2 separate regions of the Homo sapiens genome follow, and region 1 is reported to be linked to region 2. The links are microRNA targets in miRTarBase. Many come from high-throughput screens and were not tested one by one. Region 2 holds a microRNA gene; the other region holds the end of a gene's coding sequence.

Region 1 (5,067 bases), not on the chromosome of region 2:
CACCCAAGCTGGAGTGCAGTGGTGCAATCACAGCTCACTGCAGCCTCAACCTCCCGAGTAGCTGGGACCACAGGCAGGTGCCACCACATCCGACTCATATTTCTGATTTTCTGTGGAGACAGGGTGTCCGTGTGTTGCCCAGGCTGGCCTTGGTGTTTGACCTGCCAAGGCTTCCATGAGGCCAGTGCCCGCACGGCAGCTAGAGCATGTACTGGCAGTGACGCGATAGTAACGTTTCTCACGATTCCACGGCAGGCAGATTTGCAGCCCTTTGGTCCTGGGTGCAGGGATCGAAGCGTGGGTGTCTGTGACCACAGGTCACATGTCGCTGGTCCACTCCTCATTTGGGCTTCCTCTGTGCAGGATGGGCAGCACTGGTTCTGCCAGAGGTTTGAGGAGCTGGCGCACCTGAGGGCCCCTCCCTCCCTGTCACTGGCAGGCGAAGGAACTGGGATCAGAGCGTGAGGAGGAGCCCCGGCCCCGCCTGCTGATCTTGTTCTCTTCGCTTCCCTTTCAGATGAGCAAGGTGTGGAACGACCTGAGGCCCAAGCTCAGCTGCCTCTTTGCGGGACCACACAGCACCCTGACCCCACCGTGCTCCCCGCCGGAGGACGGCCTGTGTCCTCACTAGCGCCTGAGGCTGAGGTGGTGCTCCCTGCGGCCGCACTAAAACCTCTTTCCAAACGGTGTGTCCCGGTGTAATTCCCTTTGGACGGCAGCTCCCCTCCCCGCCACGCCCCGTGCTGCAGCTGGAGCAGAGGAGCTCACGCCTGCGGGTCGGGAGGCGCATCCGTGGACCATGGGGGCAGCTGGGCCACACTGTCCTTCGCCCTGTGGCCTGCTAGCCTGGTCGAGAGAGGTGGTGGGGTTCTCTGGAATGGTTTCCTCCTGACACCCAGAGCTGTGCGGGGAGGCAGGGATCTCTCATCTCACAGAGATTGTGCCTGGGGGAGCGTGGAGGCAGGGCCTCCAGGTGCTGGAACAGTCGGGAGGGGCAGCATCATGGTGCTCGGTCAGCCGAGGAGAGAGGGCAGGGCTGCCCTGCAGCCCAGGCATGGGACTGACCACGGACAGCGAGGGGACAGCCAGTGGTGCTGAGGCTGGGAGGGAGGGCCATTGGGCGTGGGGCACGCACGGTGAATTTTCTAGGGAAATTGCTGCAGTCAACACCTGGAGCCCTGGTCTGGGAGTGGCCTGTGGGGTCCAGTGGCCTCATGCCCTGTGCCCATATGATGACCCCATGTGTGCCTGTGTCCACACCATGACCCTGTGTGTGCCCAGGCCTGGAAGACAAAGGCGTGACGGAGAGCTGGGGCTCTGAGAGTGGGCGCTACAGCAGCTGTGTTCTCGTCCCCTGGACTCCCTTGATTTCTGGTGGCCAGTGTTGGGGTCTGCACCGTGTGGCACTGAGGCTGGATGGGCTGGCAGAGGACAGGTGGGGGCGTGGGGGGGCGTGTTCCATTCCAGCTGAGGCTTTAGAGGAGGGACAGCCCCCTTTTAAGTGGATTTCCTTCTCTGAGGCACCTAGAGCCCTCCTCCCAGCCTCCCGTCACGCACTTGCCGGCCCAGCCACCTGCTCACAGAGGGAACCAGTGGTCTTTCAGGCCCCTTCCCTGCTCTGGATGAAGAAGGCCATTCTCCTGAGCTCTGTGGGGCTGGACTGTCCGCCTCAGGCCTGGGTCTGCTTCTGCCCGAACCCCTTTTGTGGAAGGTACATGGGAGCCCAGTGGACCCCTGCACTTCTCCGGAGCCTGACGCCCCTCCCTGGCCGGGGAGGGGTGCTGGAAGAGGCCCGCCGGGCTCCAGGGTTTCCGAGGTCCCTCCGCTCCGCAGATGCTCACTGGCCTCTGGGGCGTTCACTCCTCTCACGGAGGGTGCTTCCCTTCCGCCTGTACCTACGGGCAGCTCACGGCCGTGGGATGGAGAGGGGACTCCTGTGTGTGCCCCGCAGGCAGGTGATCCATCGTCCACTGCGAGCCGGCCAGAGGGAACGGCCGTGCCTTCTGGCCCCGTGGGCTGTGCTGACTCGGTGGCTGTGGGGCTCGGGCCCAGCCTGCCCTGCCCTGTGGGTTCTGCTGCTGCCTTCCTGCTGTGAGGTGGGCTGCTTCCTTCTGGCCAGATGAGCAGAGGGCAGCGTTCCCTTTGGAGCCCGATGGGTGGGCTGTCCCGTGAGTCCCTAGTCCACCCGAGTCTTGGGCTGCGCTGCCTTCTGACGCCCCTCTGCAGAGACAGGTTCTCAGTTGCCATGAATGGCACCATGACACCCGAGCCATGAAGCGTGACCCCGTGTGGGCAGAAGGCTGCAAGGCCTCTCCGTCCACCCCGCACCTTCCTGGGGCCTGTCCAGCTGCAGGACCATAGAGGCTGTGGGGAGTCGTGGAGGGCATCAGGTGCTGGGGCCTCTGTGTCTCCAGAGTAGGCAAGGCACGCGCTCCTGACAGCCCCCAAGGATTGAGCAAGACTTCAGAATGAGCTTTTCTGAAGGAGCTTTCCTGGCAGGGACTCCGGGGTCAGTGAGTGTATGAGAGGCCACATACCTGGCGGCATCTCCCTGTGTTGGAAACTTCAAGAGCAGGGTCTCAGGGTCCTCATGTCCAGAGGCTGAGGATGGAGGTGGAAGGCTGGAGGGCAGGGGTGAGGAGGGAGCAGGAGGGCAGGAGTTGGGGGAGCAGGAGGGCAGGGGTCAGGAGAACAGGAGAACAGGGGTAAGGGAGGGCAGGGGTGAGGGGGAGCAGAAGAGGGATGAGGGGGAGCAGGAGGGCAGGCGTTGGGACAGGAGGGCAGGGGTGAGAGAGCAAGGGGGCAGGGGTGAGAGAGCAGGAGAGCAGGGGTGAGGAGAGCAGGAGAGTAGGGGTGATGGGGAATAGGAGGGCAGGGGTGAGGAGGGAGCAGGAGAACGGGTAAGGGAGGGCAGGGGTGAGGGGGAGCAGGAGGGCAGGGGTGAGGAGAGAGCAAGAGGGCAGGGGTGAGGAGAGCAAGAGGGCAGGGGTGGGAAGGCAGGAGGGAGGTGGGGGGGCAGGAAGGCAGGGGTGGGAGGGTCAGGAGGGCAGGGTGAAGGGGGGGCTGGAGGGCAGCGGTGACGAGGGCAGCCTGTCTCCCACGTGTGGTGGCTGCTTCCTGTGTGCCCTGGGGTTGGCTCTGTGGAGGGGTGGGCACTGGCTTTGGAACACCTCCCTCCCCTTCCTCCTCTGCCACCCAGTGCCTTCTAAAGGGCAGCAGAAAGAGGCCTGCTAGGCAGGGGTGGCGGAGGCCACCTTCCTTCTCACAAATACTTCTTGGCCCTGGCCCTGTGCTGCCCGGGCAGGTCCCCAGGCTCAGGGGCTGAGAGGCTGCTTACTGCTGCAGGTGGAGGCCCCATGCCGGAGGGAGAGCGGGGTTCCCCCCATGCCTCTCCAGCCCTCCTGCTGCCCACGGCCCAAGCCCAAGCTTGTGCCGGTCATTACGGCCTTGCCTAGCTGGCAGGGACAGCTGCGTGTGATGCTGGTGGAGATGCCAGATGCCGCCTGCCCTGTGAGGACGGCTGGCGGGGCCGTGGGAGGGGGGTTGTGGGCTGGCGGGGCTGTGGGAAGGGGGCTGCCGATCATGGTGAAAGGGGACATTTTCATTGGGTCCTCGTGGTCCGTGTCCTGGGTACTCGGGGTCACCGTGCAGACAGCTGCCCTTTGTCTGCCGGACACAGTGCAGGCAGGGGAGACAGGTTTAGGGCTCTGACATGGGGCACAGGGACTCCGAGCCAAGGGATGTCAGGGCAGCTCTGTGCATCTGAGGCCTTTGCCCTTGCTTTGCGGGTCAGTTCATGTCCAAAGCACTTTAGGAGGCTGCAGGGATCAATACCCAATATACCCAACAACTGGAATTGTTTACACATGACCTACATTTTGGACGGTTTATCAATAAACATGTGTGAACAACTGTTATTAAACGTGTATGAAAGTTGGGCAGGGGAGGGGACTAGCCTATGAGGCGTTCAACCTGGGTTTTAGCCCAGAGCCCTTGGCCGAGCCTCAGCTTCCCACACTGTGCAGGGGGGTTTTAAGAGGACACATCCCCAGCTTGTGGCACTGAGCATGTGTGTCTCTGCCCTGGGCCAGCTGCCCACCTCGGGGACAGAGTCTCCATCCTCTCCCACCTCTGTGCAGCAGTGCGGGCTGAAGCCCAGCACATCTGGTAGCTTCCTGTGGACGGGACCTGGCAGGCTGTGCTGGTGTCTGGAGAAGAACGTTTGAAAGGTTAGAGACCGGCCGGGTGCAGTGGCTCACGCCTGGAATCCCAGCACTTTGGGAGGCTGAGGCAGGTGGATCACCTGAGGTCAGGAGTTCAAGACCAGCCTGGTCAACATGGTGAAACCCCATCTCTACTAAACAGACAAATATTAGTTGGGTGTGGCAATGTGCGCCTGTAATCCCACCTCTTCGGGAGGCTGAGATGGGAGGATCGCTTGAACCTGGGAGGCGGAGGTTGACGTGAGCCGAGATCGTGCCATTGCACTCCAGCCTGGGCAACAGAGAGAGACTCCATCTCCAAAAAAAAAAAAAAAAAACCACCGCTAGATAGCTTTATTTTCCCTTCCATCCAGTTAATTCCAGATGAAACCCGGCTCTGCGCCACTCAATGCCCCCAGGTGAAGATGGTTTGCGGCTGTTCAGCAGCCACGTCTCCTGCCCAGGGGCTGCCCTGGGCTCCCGCTAGACCGTGTCCACCTCGCGGAGTGTGTAGTCCAGGATGGTGTCCTGACCCTGGAACTTGAAGTACCCGTGGAATTTCTTCTTCTGAAGCAGGAGTGGAAACCAGTAGCTGTCGTCGGGCCACATGTCCTTGAAGGGGATCTGATCCAGCTGGAACCAGCATGGGCGCATTTCTGTACCAATGGGGGAAGAGGAGGCACTGAGGTGCAACCCAAACTTCATGCTTAAAAAACATGTTTTTTTTGGCCGGGCGCGGTGGCTCACGCCTGTAATCCCAGCACTTTGGGAGGCCGAGGCGGGAGGATCACGAGGTCAGGAGATCGAGACCATCCTGGCTAACACGGTGAAACCCCGTCTCTACTAAAAATACAAAAAAATTAGC
Region 2 (5,072 bases):
AAGTAAAAGCCAGTGCTCAAACACAAATTGAATTTCCAAAGCTAGTAGCTCTTTGGGGCTTCAGAACAGATGGATGTGAGCAGCTCTTCTTCATTTACTCTTCTACATGGTAAAGAAATAGGAAAACCTATGTCCATTAGCTTTAGGAATCAATACTCCTTTTCCTGCTGGGAGTTCACTGGCGATACTTTACTCTGAATCTGCTTTTCTTTCCATTAGGTAACTTTGATATTAATACACAATTGAGTTCATTCTTGGCTACTGTAATTACTTTCTAATTTTGTCTAGGCTGTTTTAGAGGAACTTTCCCTCTAAACAAGTCAAAGCTTTTTAAATGTAGTTCAACCATTGGAACCACTTTATGACCTTTGTTACTGTTTTTTACTATGGAGTGGTAAGTAATATACTAAAAACCTTCTGGAGAGTCTACTAGGAAAAAATTCAGTATCAGATCAGTGGTTCCTTTCTAGAAATATTCAAGGAGGCTAAATGAGATTATCTCTGCTAGAGAAGCAAGGTCAGGTAAAACACAGCTTTTAAGACAGGCCACTCCTGGCACAATCCTGGGTCAGTTTTGTCATCAGAGGGTTTGGCTTCATAGCTTTGAACTATGCTTTATGTACACACAAATTCTTTTTCTAGGTATTTATATTCAGCTGCATATGGTTTTTTAATAGGAGTTATTTCTTGGTTATTTGCTGCTTTCAGACCACCCAAATAGAAGAGATCATGATTTGGCCCCATTTCATAGGTGGGAAGGCTGAACAAAGCACTCAGGTTAGTGGCTAGTTGAAGGTCTCACAACAGAAATCAGTGAGAGTCTTTCTTTGGTTTTGTTCTCAAATTTAGGGGCAAATTTTCCTTGATGTTTATTTTTAGTCTCTGCCCTCTTTTCATATCCAGTCTACCCTAAAGCTCTGTTGCACCCTAGCACTTTAATTCAAGTGCCCCTTTGTTCGTCTGCTTTTATTCACCCATATTAATAGTCTTGACGTAGTTGGGGACTTGGATGGGCATATCTTAAAGTAAAATTTAAAAATAAACCTTATTATTCCTTCAGTCTTGGAGGTGGAACATTCCTAGGCCTATGTTGCTTGCTGACTGGTTGTGAGACCTTTGAAGAAGCTCTGGAAATGGCAGCTAAAGGCGACAGCACCAATGTTGATAAACTGGTGAAGGACATTTACGGAGGAGACTATGAACGATTTGGCCTTCAAGGATCTGCTGTAGCATCAAGGTAGAGATTAAGTAGCTAGGAGCAGTAGTGATTAAACACAAGGCAGCCTCTCCACCCTGGCCATTCACTAAGTTGTTTTAAAATGTCAGTCCACCAGCCTGGTGCAGATACCTGTTGTATCAGAGCTCAGACTTGATCTCCTGCCCTTGATGAAGCACTGAGATGTTTAGCTCTTGATGCTTGTTCTTAAAATAAGGCAACTTTGAAAGAAGGTTCTAGAAAACTGCAATAGTTTCACCTGTTCCATTCTTGTCCAGATATCTAGAGGCATTAATTTTCCCCCCCCATTAATGGACATGCTACTTTGTCCCTATTAAGAAAAGGGCGGTCAGCCATGCATACTATAATTCTGTCTGCTTATAAACCATAGTAGCAAAATTGGATCACTTGAGTTTGAACAGTTACTCGTAGAGCCTTCCACAATACTTTGGTGGAAGGATGGGCCCTGCCTGAGGACGATTTTGAACACTCTCGCTGATATTTCCAACATAGCTTTGGCAACATGATGAGTAAAGAAAAGCGAGATTCCATCAGCAAGGAAGACCTCGCCCGGGCCACATTGGTCACCATCACCAACAACATTGGCTCCATTGCTCGGATGTGCGCGTTGAATGAGGTAAGGCCTTACTCAACCCGGTGAAAGCTGTGTGTCATTCATATACATCATCTTGGCAGTGCAACACCTGTTGACTCTTACACAACTACATATCCTTAGGAAAGCTTCCCTTTACTCTAGTCACACTTTACAGAACAGGAGGGGTGTGTGTTGGGGGAGGGGGAGGAATATATGCTTTATTTTTAAGAAGGCACTGGATGATAATGAATGATAAACCATTCACCTGTGGAAACAGGATACAATTACAACCCATGTCATAGTCTCTCTAACCATCATTATTGCCATGTGTCCACTGAAATGTGAGGAAAAGGTCTGAGCATCCTTGCACATAACTGCAGGTAAAATGCTCGACTTGCAATATTCGATATTCTCTCTGCTTTCAGCTTCTTTACAGTGTTGCCTTGTGGCATGGAGTTCAAGCAGCATTGTACAGGGCTATCAAAGCACAGAGAGCTTGCTACAGCCAAGGCCAGCCAGAGTCCCAGGCACAAAAAGGGGTGGAGCTGGTGACATACAAAGTTGTATTAACATGTTTTGAAGCATTGCAAGATTCGTTTGGAAAAAATTGAACCTTTTCTGAAATACAAGGTGTATAAAGTAGAACTCTTCACACTGAGGTATATTAGAAAGACAGGAAAGAGGAGTTGAGGCATGGAACAGGTCATAGGAGAGTATTAAAGAACCACAGTAGATCTGTAATGGAGTTTTTATAAATACAGCTTTTAATAGAGGTGACATACATACAGAAGAAGGCTCAAATTATAAGCTTACAGTTTAATTTACACACACAAGCAACCCTGTATAGCCATCACCCAGATCAAGAAATAGAACATTATAGGTACTCAGAAAGCCCCTTGAGCCCCCTCTCAGTTGAATAGTTGAATGTTAGTGTATGAGGCAGTCTTTATGATACATGGGTGTTAGCCCTGCCTTTGAGTTCTGGGTTGACAAAAAACATACTCTCCTTGCATAACACTGAACAGAGTATGTTACTGGCCTGCAGATCAGCGATATACCTTTTTGGAAGCCCTCAGTTCAGACGGAGTTTAAATGGGAGGCTGATACTCAGAGAAAAGAGCATTCCAGAGATGTTTTTTCAAAGTCCACTTGAGTCATGGGACTCAATGTAACAGAGTTTATTTCTTGACATTAACCTTTAAAGGGAATTTTTCCAAGTAATGAAACAAGCCCCAAGACCAATATGTGTGTAGTTGGCTGTACTCATGGGCTCTCAAAGGTCAGCTGGTAACAACCCTTGCCCCACAGAGCAATAGATGCCCTTTCCCCTACTTTCCGCAGAGCTGGCTTCTTGTGCTTTTTGCTGGAGTGAGCCAGCAGGTCAGCAGGTCTTTTCACAGGCATCAGAATCCCTTTGGGAGAGAGCAACTGACTTTACTTTTCACTTTTGATTTCAATTTCAATATTGTTGATTGGTGGAGTAGAGCGAGTGCCAATTTGAAAATGTAGCCATGTTATACACTGGTTTGAGCAACTATTTTATATGTTTCTGTGGGGCTGAATGAGTGAAGGGAATCACCAGTCGCCTTGGGGCCAAGGCTCTACCAGAGGGTGTCCAGTCAGTGCAGACTCCCAGTGGCCGCACCAGTGACTGGCAGTGTTGCATTTCCCATGAGAGCAGCCACCAAGTCCCTCAGTCCTTGCTTTGCTCTCTGGAGTCACTGATTTGAGAACCTTTGATTGCAGCCATTTCATTGAGGGACACCACGTTTACCAAATCTAAAACATTTTTGCTGTGATTCTTGAGATGCTGTGAAATGCTTCCCCATCAGTTATAAATTTTCTGATTCAAATTTTTGGATAGATAATACAAACACATAATACAGACTTCTAAGACATTAGAAGGATACACAAGGAAGTGAGTCACCATTTCCACTTCTGTCTCTCAGTGTTAACCTCAGTAGAGGCTGCCATTTTTTTTAGGGTTTTTTTGTTTGTTTTTATTGTACGTATTACAATATATCTTTGTTTATATTGTATGTAATGTAGGATACATTTATCTTTCCAAAGGTAGCAAACTCTATATAGCATTCTTTTTACAAAATAATAGCTTTATTGAAATATAATTATATGCTATACAATTCACCCTCCATATACTATTCTATATCTTGCTTTATCAGCTTTTTATTAAGAAAATTCATAAACATATGTAAAGGAGAGAGAACAGTATAAAGAACCTCCATTAATCCATCAGTGCAGATTCTGCAATCATTAAGGCTTCACAACACATGCTTTCTCTATATTTTCTTCTTCCTCCTCCCTCTGGTCCTCTCTCCTTCTTCCCTCTTTTTTGCTAAAATACTAGAAAACAAATCCCAGATATTATATCAATCTACCCTATATATTTTAATAAGCATCTCTAAAAATACTGCCTTTTGCTTTTTGACGTAATAACGCATCTTGAAATTGATCATATCAGTATATTTTAAATTGCTTCATTTTTAATGGCCATATAGCATTTTAACATATAGATATGCTGTTATTGATTTGTTCAATTTCCTAATGATATTTAGGTTTTTCCAGTCTTTTACTATTATTTAAAAATTCAGTGTATTTGTATACGGTATACACACATATATGTACACACATGTATATTATTTTGCCTACATGTGAGTATATCAATAGGATAAATTCCTAGAAGGGAACTTGCTGAGTCATCGGATATGTTGATTGTAATATTAACAGATATAAAGTTCCCTCCATAAAGGTGGTTCTAATTTACATTCCCACCAAGCAGGGTTATAACGGTACAAGTTTCTCCACAGAGTTATCAAACTTTTTGATTTTTTTCAATGTAATAGGTTAAAAATTATACCTTATTTTGGGATTAACTATTAATATTATTTACTCATTACTCTATTGGGTTGTTGGACTTTTTTTCTTGTTGATTTATGGAACTCTTTATTAATTAACAAATCCATTTTATGTGAAATGTACTGATAATATTTTCCATTTATTGCTTCCCGTTTGGATTTGTTTGTGGTGATGTTTTTCCCCGAATAAATTTAACTTTTTAAAGTAAATGTAGCAATTATTTTGAGATGATTTCCTTTATTATGCATTTTCTACTTCAACTTTTTTTTCCAATTCTTCCATATTTTTCCCTATCTCTTTTTCTTTTCTTTCTTTCTTTTTTTTTTTTTCTTTTTTAACATCTTTGACCCACCTGGAATTTATTTGAAACATGGAATGCTCTTCCAG

What was found. Region 2 holds the annotated microRNA hsa-miR-107 (AGCAGCAUUGUACAGGGCUAUCA, at 2,272-2,294, shown strand). A microRNA usually pairs through its seed, bases 2 to 8, with sites in the 3' UTR of a target mRNA and lowers its output. Matches are read on the target gene's strand: a 7mer-m8 pairs with bases 2 to 8, a 7mer-A1 pairs with bases 2 to 7 and ends in A, and an 8mer does both.
Region 1: the mRNA of SNX8 is a reported target of hsa-miR-107. Seed matches in the 3' UTR shown: 7mer-A1 at 742-748, 7mer-A1 at 1,156-1,162 and 7mer-A1 at 3,338-3,344.

Annotation. Positions count from the first base shown.
Region 1 is chr7:2,250,620-2,255,686 of GRCh38, reverse strand. SNX8 (sorting nexin 8) reads left to right here. Exons shown (of 11, transcript NM_013321.4): 11 at 518-3,917. The coding sequence ends at 631. NUDT1 (nudix hydrolase 1) reads right to left here. Exons shown (of 4, transcript NM_002452.4): 4 at 4,542-4,858. The coding sequence ends at 4,686. Among named protein-coding and RNA genes, the nearest start is that of MIR6836, 4.4 kb to the left of the region's middle. RefSeq lists an enhancer at 3,173-3,522.
Region 2 is chr10:89,589,978-89,595,049 of GRCh38, reverse strand. It overlaps MIR107 (microRNA 107), which reads left to right and starts at 2,223; the gene lies at 2,223-2,303. PANK1 (pantothenate kinase 1) reads left to right here. Exons shown (of 7, transcript NM_148977.3): 4 at 1,061-1,237; 5 at 1,730-1,853.